2 linked regions of the Homo sapiens genome follow. The protein of the gene in region 2 binds, or shares a complex with, the protein of the main gene of each other region. Each region holds a gene or a part of one and is shown on either strand. Other genes may lie near its edges.

Region 1 (3,600 bases), on a different chromosome or scaffold from region 2:
CCACTGCCAGGAACAGGGACAGCAGCAGCAGAGCAAAGGTCTTCGTGGCCACCATCTTCCAAGGTTATTTCCTGAGCTAAGACAGAAAAAAGCCAGGACATGTTGAGAGAGCAACCAGTAGGGGTTCTGAAAGCTGGAGAGGGGCAAAGCCCTGAGGTTTGGACCCTTTCTTTTCCTTTTTCTTTTTTTTTTTTTTTTTTGAGATGGAGTCTCGCTCTGTCGTCCAGGTGGGAGTGCAGTGGCACAATCTTGGCTCACTGCAACCTCCACCTCCTGGGTTCAAGCCATTCTTCTGCCTCAGCCTCTCGAGTAGCCTGGACTACAGGCATGTGCCACCACTCCCGGCTAATTTTTGTATTTTTAGTAGAGACAGGGTTTCACCATATTGGCCAGGCTGGTCTCGAACTCCTGACCTTGTGATCTGCCCACCTGGGCCTCCCAAAGTGCTGGGATAACAGGCGTGAGCCATCGCGCCTTGCCAGTTTGGACCTTTTCTAAGAGCCTGGGGCAACACCATGGGGGAAGATGAGGGGTGCTGTGCACTGGAGTTAGTGACTAGAAGGGACATGGAATCTTACCAAAAGATGGACCAGGCTGGGTGCAGTGGCTCATGCCTGCAATCCCAGCACTTTGGGAGGCCCAGGTGGGCGGATCACTTGAGGTCAGGAGTTTGAGACCAGCCTGGCCAATATGGTGAAATCCTGTCTCTACATAAAAGACAAAGATTAGCCAGGTGTGGTGGTGCGCGCCTGTGATCCCAGCTATTCAGGAGGCTGAGGCATGAGAATCGCTTGAACCTGGGAGGAAGAGGTTGCAGTGAGCCGAGATTGCGCCAGTGCACTCCAGCCTGGGTGACAGAGCGAGACTCCATCTCTAAATAAATAAATAAAGGAAACATCAGCGCTACCTTCTCATTTCTCTTTCTCTTTTTTTGAGACAGGGTTTCGCTCTGTCACCCGGGTTGGAGTGCAGTGACACAATCGTGGCTCACTGCAGCCTCGACCTCCTGGGCTCAGGCAAACCTTTCACTTCACCCTCCCGAGTACCTAGAACCGCAGGCATGTACCACCATGCCCAGCTAATTTTTTAAATTATGTGTAGAGATCGAGTTTCCCTCCATTGCCCAGGCTGGTCTTGAACTCCTGTGCTCAAATGATCCTCCTACCTCGGCTCCCAAAGTATTGGGATTACAGGCATGAGGCACCGCACCTGACTATCTTCTCACATCTCATATAGAGGAAGAGAAAACTAAGATGCCAGGGCTGCTGAGCATCTCAGGGTTGCCAAGATCCATCTGCTCTCGGGTCATCTCATCCATCCCTGTCTCCACTTCTCTTACCAGACTTCCTTTCCAGCTCTTCCAGAAGAAGGACAGATAGGGGTCTCCTTCCCCTGATTTCTGGACCTTCTGAGCCTGCTGAAGAAATCATGCCCCAGCTCCTTTATATTAGGCATAGACCTGCTGATTAGCCTAAAAGCATCTTATCTCAAGAAATTAAGCCCACAGCTCCTGCCACATTAAGTCCATTTTACACATAATAGAGTTGCCCTTTCCACCTGAACTGTGCTAATTGGTGATTAACATTTGGCTATCTCCAGCTGCTGTCTGGGGCCTGCCTGTGGGTAGGGTACCCTAAGTACCCCCTTTTTTCTTCCTCCTCCTCCCTTCTGGGCACAGGGCCCACTACTATTCTTCTATGCCCTACTTCCTTTACAGTTGCCCTCAGTTAGAAGGGATACTTGTAGGCCAGGCGCGATGAATCACGTCTGTAATCCCAGCGCTTGGGAGGACGACACGGGCGGATCACCTGAGGTCAGGGGTTCGAGACCAGCCTGGCCAACATGGTGAAACCCAGTCTCTACTAAAAATACAAAAATTAGCTGGGCATGGTCGTGCACGGCTGTAATCCCAGCTACTTGGGAGGTTGAGGCAAGAGAATCACTTGAACCTGGGAGGCAGAAGTTACAGTGAGCCAAGATCGAGTTCACTGCACTCCAGCATGGGCAACAAAGAGAGACTCTCTCAAAAAAGAAAAAAAGAAAAGAAAAAAGAAAGGGGGCCGGGCGCAGTGACTCACGCCTGTAATCCCAGCACTTTGGGAGGCCGAGGCGGGTGGATCACGAGGTCACGAGATCGAGACCATCCTGGCTAACACAGTGAAACCCCGTCTGTACTAAAAACACAAAAAATTAGCCGGGCATGTTGGCAGGTGCCTGTAGTCCCAGCTACTCGGGAGGCTGAGGCAGGAGAATGGCGTGAACCCGGCAGGCGGAGGTTGCAGTGAGCCGAGATGGCGCCACTGCCTGCCAGCCTGGGCGACGGAGCGAGACTCCATCTCAAAACAAACAAACAAACAAAAAAAAAAAAAACAAACAAAAATTAGCCAGGCATGGTGGCACGTGCCTGTAGTCCCAGCTACTTGGGAGGCTGAGGCAGGAGAATCGCTTGAACCCAGACCTGGAGGCAGAGGTTGTAGTGAGCCAAGATCGTGCCACTGCACTCCAGCCTGGGTGACAAAACAAGACTCTGTCTCAAAAAATAAAAATAAAAATAAAAAAGGGTACTTGTAGTGAAGACAGACTTGGGGTAGGGTGGCACTAACTGGCAGGGGGACACTCCCACAAGGCAACAGGCTACTTCTGGGTGGGAGAGAGTAGGTCCACAGTCATCTGAATCCCAGCTCTGGACAGTGGCCTATGGCTTTGGTGATGTGGCAATGCCCCCATCACATTATCTAGAGAGGTGTCCCAAGGGCTCAATGTTGAGGGAATATGAAGGATCGGGGTTTCCTAGGGACAGCTGGATAAACTGAGAACATACATTCAAGCTGTCTTCCTGCTCAGGGGCAGGATAAAGCAGGAGAAAGAGACATGTTTGTACCTCAGGGGCTCACAGGAGGGTGGGGTAGTTACAACTTTATCTATAGAGATTTAGGAGCCCCTCTCCTCATATGTCCTACTGTCCTGTACAAGAGAAGTATGTCATCCTGTCTCTTCTATCAGAGTGAAGACCCTGGAGTTATGCTGTGCCTCTCTATTATACAGGAGCCACTCCAAGGCAGGGGCTTTCTGTCCCTGATCTGCCTGGGAGCTCTCTGAGAGGAGGAGGAGAGCTGGAGGCGATGTTCCCCCAGCACACTGAGGCTTTCTGAGGCTAAGGGCTGTGTCTCCCCCTCAGACTGGAGACTCCTTGGGATACTCCCTTTGCCTTTCTCCAAGTACTTAGCACATGGCTCTGTCCACAGGGGCTCTCAGTCTAGAAGGGGCAGGGCACAGATTGCATTTTTGGCAGACCTCCAAGGCGTTCTTTCCAGGCTCCTCCTCTGCCGCCGCCATGGGTACTTGGGACCATAAACAGCCAAGCTCATGCTCTGCCTATCAGCTCCAGGTCCTAATAAAGGCCACCTTCCTTTCCAGGTGAACACCCTAGCCTAGGAGCAGATCCAGCATGAAATTAAGTGTGCGTGTGGGATGAGAGGTACCTGGACTAGCAGGGTCACTTACCTCTGCCTCCTGGAAACCTCCTCTGCATACCCACCCATTCTCCACCATCTAGAAAAACTCCTCCCTTAGCAAGCTCTCCAAATTCCATCTCCCAGC
Region 2 (3,941 bases):
GCGATTCTCCTGCCTCAGCCTTCCGAGTAGCTGGGATTACAGGCGGCCGCCACCACGCCCGGCTAATTTTTGTATTTTTTTTAGTAGAGAGGGAGTTTCACCATGTTGGCCAGGCTGGTCTCGAACTCCTGGCCTCAAGTGATCCACCCGCTTCGGCCTCCCAAAGTGCTGGGATTACAGGCGTGAGCGACAGCGCCCTGACGACGGAAGCCCTAAAACCGTCCCCATACCTCCCTCCAAGCCTGGAGCTCCTCTGGCTCCTCGCTTCCTCACCTCCGCCCTCTGGAGCAGCAGCCCGCACAGTGAGAGCCGCAGCAGCAGCTGCAGGATCGGAGAGGTAGTCATCGTGAGGGCGGCGAAGGGTCTGGTTCGTGCAGGGGCGATCAGGCCTGGAGGGTCCCAGGGCAAGGTCAGCACCTCTGCCCTCCTACTCCAACCCCAGCGTCACCCCGCCTCAGGGATTCACACACAGGGGCAGACGGCTGGGGAGCCGTATACACGCGGGACTCCGAGGCAGCGCACCCGCTCCCGCAACTCCCAGGCGTGATGATCTGGGGGGAGGGAGAGGCACGCGGAGTGGGTGGAACTCCGGTGGTGGGCGGGGCCCCTTAAGTGATTCCCCGGCCTCCCCTGACTGTTGTTGGGGCAGCAAAGGTGGAAGGGGGGGGTGTTTGCTGAGCGGGCGGTTGCCCTAGAGCTACGCTGGGCGGAAGTGTCAGTGTCACCGAAGTCTGGACCTACAGACTCCTGGGAACCCGGGGACCGCCTTGGAGAGGAGGGGGTAGAAACCGTCAGCCTAGACCCCTTTTCTATGGGGAACTGAAAAACTTGAAGGTTTTCAGTACCCCCTAGTGGGGTACTTGAAACGCCCATCTGAGTTCCCACAGCCTGGTGGAGAACTTGAAACGCCCATCCGAGCTCCCACTCTCCAAGCCCAAAGGGTTTTCTAGCACACATAGGAACCTGACCTTACAAAACTTTCCCCGCTGGGGGTAGATAAAGCCCAGAGTAAGTGGAACAACCCTTTCCCAGCATCCAAATACTTAGGGACTAGAGAAGCGACAGATCCGGGGTTAGATGTGCAGATGCCTGGAAATCGGTCTAACGCCCGACACCCACTCACCCGCGCCCCCGCGGCTCCACGTAGAGAAAGACGGAAGCAGAGAGGATCTCAGGTCGAGCCTCAGAAGGACAGACAACGGCGTCACAGACACAAGAGACAGAAATGTAAAGACTGAGAGGCGCAGAGACGGAGGGACAGAATGAGACCCCCAGCCAGAGACCAGAGAAAAACAAACAGAGAAAGAGACGCAGATGTGGGCTAGGAGACAAAGAAGAGGCAGAGACGTGGAGGGAGACAGAGCAGGGGAAAGAGAAGTTATCTAGCAGCTAACCAGAGATGGAAACACGCAGACAGAGACATCAAGAGACAGAGATGAGCAGAGATGGTGGTGGGCACAGAGACAGAGAGACAAAGGCAGGGCAGAGAAGCAGAGAGGGAGAGTGCCAGAGACTTGAGAGGTCAAGGGGGGGCAGGGAGAATGGGCTGGGATTGGGGAGCCCTCACCTGTCCCCAGTCCTGCTCCTGGTCACTTGCTCCTGCAGCCCCTGCCACCGCTGCCTCCAACTGCCTTGTCTCGGCTCTGGGAGAGGTGACAGGCGCTGGCAGCCCGGGGTGATGGGAGGGGGCGGGGCCAAGGCGGGACAGGGAACGGAAGCGGGGAGCTCTGGGGCAGAGAGCCGAGCAGGGGGCAGTCATCAAGGTCATGAGGGAGGGCAGTTACTGAATTGTCCTTATCGTCCTGAGGACCCCTGCACCAAGTGTGTACAATCTCTCATGCTGTCCCACCCACAGGTACCCGCCCCCACCGCCACTCATTCCCAGAGCCTCAGTCACTCAATCAAACATGCAGTGTCACACACAATCCCATAGGCTGAGCCATGGAAAGGCACAGTCACAGAACCTCACAAGCTGTTACTCACACAGTCACACATTCAGTCACACCCATACAGTCCCATGGTCACACCCAGACAGCCACAGTCTCTCACTCACAGGTGGACAGTCATCCACTGTGACACACAGTCATGTACCCAGGGCTATGGACTCCTGCACACACACAGTAACGCTCACAGTGTCTCACAGTTCCAACAACACTGTCAATCACCCACACATTCACGCAATCACCGGGTTTCATCACAAACACTGTTGCCCTGCTAGCCTGTGTGGCCCAGGAGGGTAGAGCCAGGACATCTGGGTCACCACTGGGTCCCCAAAATCGTTAAGAGCAGGGGTTCAAGGAAGGATTGTCATGAAATAAATATACGCAGTATGCAGTTGTGTGGTTACTCGCAGACATAGAATTTTTTTTTTTTGAGACAGAGTCTTCCTCTGTTGCTGAGGCTGGAGTACAGAAGCATGATCTCAGCTCACTGCAACCTCCGCCTCCTGGGTTCAAGCAATTCTCCCACCGCAGCCTCCCAAGTAGCTGGGATTCCAGGCACACACCACCACAACCGACTAATTTTTGTATTTTTAGTAGAGACGGTGTTTCACCATGTTGCCCAGGCTGGTCTCAAACTCCTGACCTCAGGTGTTCCACATGTCTTGGCCTTCCAAAGTGGTGGGATTACAGGCGACAGCCACCACACCCGGCCCATACAATCCTTTTTACATTTTATTTATTTATTTATTTATGAGAGTGGAGTGCACTGGAACAATTATAGCTCACTGCAGCCTCCACTTCCTGGGCTCAAGGGATCCTCTTAACTCAGCCTCTTGACTAGCTGGGACTATGGGCATGAGCCACCATGCCCCACCATTTTATTAAAAAATAATTTCAACTTTTTTTTTTTTGAGACAGGGTCTCACTCTGTCACCCAGGATGGAGTGCAGTGGCGCCATCTTGGCTCACTTCAACCTCCGCCTCCAGGGTTCAGGAGATTCTCCTGCCTCAGCCTCCCGAGTAGCTGGGACTACAGGTGTGTGCCACCACACCCAGCTAAAATTTTTGTATTTTTAGTAGAGATGGGGTTTCACCATGTTGGCCATGCTGGTCTCCAACTCTTGGCCTCAAGCAATCCTCCTGCCTCGGCCTCCCAAAGTGCTGGGACTACAGGGATGTGCCATCACACCCAGCCTCAACTTTTATTTATTTATTTATTCATTTATTTTAATTCATTTTATTTATTATTTTTTCTAGACAGGGTCTCACTCTGTCACCCAGGCTGGAGTGCAGTGGCGCCAACTTGGCAACCTCTGCCTCTTGGGTTCAGGCGATTCTCATGCCTCAACCACCAGAGTAGCTGGGACTACAGGTGTATGCCACCACGCCTGGCTGATTTTTATATTTTTAGTAGAGATGAGGTTTCACCATGTTGGCCATATTGTTCTCCAACTCCTGGCCTCAAGTGATCCTCCCGCCTTGGCCTCCCAAAGTGCTGGGATTACAGGTATGAACCACCGCGCCTGGCCTTAACTTTTATTTTAGATTCAGGGGGCACATGTGCAGGTTTGTCACGGGGGTGTATTGCACGATGCGGAGGTTGGGGGTATAAATGATCCCATCATCCAGGTAGTGAGCATGGCACCCAACGGGTAGTTTTTTAACCCTTGTCTCCTTCCCTGCCCCCTCTAGGAGTCCCCAGTGTCTGTTGTTCGCATGTTGGTGTCCATGTGTACCCAGTGCTCAGCTCCCACTTATAAGTAAGAGCATCTGGTGTTTGGATTTCTGTTCCTTTGTTAATTCACTTAGGATACTGGCCTCCAGCTGCATCTGTGTTGCTGCAAAGGACTTTCCTTTCCTTTTCCTCTCCCCTCTCCCCTCTCCCCTCCCCCCTCCCTTCCTCCCTTTCTCCCTTTCTCTCTTTCTTTCTTGGGATGGAGTCTCACTCTGTCGCCCAGGCTGGAGTGCAGTGGCACGATCTCAGCTCACTGGAACCTC

What was found.
Region 1: the proteins of GIPR (region 2) and GIP are in contact, whole or in part, in a cryo-EM structure (PDB 7RA3), measured with the Homo sapiens proteins. Residues at the interface, in NP_000155.1 of Homo sapiens: Gln30, Thr31, Ala32, Leu35, Tyr36, Trp39, Tyr68, Trp71, Leu88, Trp90, Arg101, Arg113, His115, Asn120, Gln130, Arg131, Leu134, Glu135, Leu137, Gln138, Tyr141, Tyr145, Arg183, Ile187, Arg190, Asp191, Pro197, Gly198, Pro199, Tyr200; in NP_004114.1 of Homo sapiens: Tyr52, Ala53, Glu54, Gly55, Thr56, Phe57, Ile58, Ser59, Asp60, Tyr61, Ser62, Ile63, Ala64, Met65, Asp66, Lys67, Ile68, His69, Gln70, Gln71, Phe73, Val74, Trp76, Leu77, Leu78, Lys81.

Annotation. Positions count from the first base shown.
Region 1 is NC_000017.11:48,967,178-48,970,777, forward strand, and holds the start of GIP (gastric inhibitory polypeptide preproprotein), read right to left. Parts: upstream 1,420-3,600; 5' UTR 1,340-1,419; intron 77-1,339; 5' UTR 56-76; coding exon 1-55. UniProt on the Homo sapiens protein: Potent stimulator of insulin secretion and relatively poor inhibitor of gastric acid secretion.
Region 2 is NC_000019.10:45,665,925-45,669,865, reverse strand, and holds the start of GIPR (gastric inhibitory polypeptide receptor isoform 1 precursor), read right to left. Parts: upstream 1,646-3,941; 5' UTR 1,568-1,645; intron 552-1,567; exon of another isoform or gene 390-551; 5' UTR 346-389; coding exon 274-345; intron 1-273. UniProt on the Homo sapiens protein: This is a receptor for GIP. The activity of this receptor is mediated by G proteins which activate adenylyl cyclase.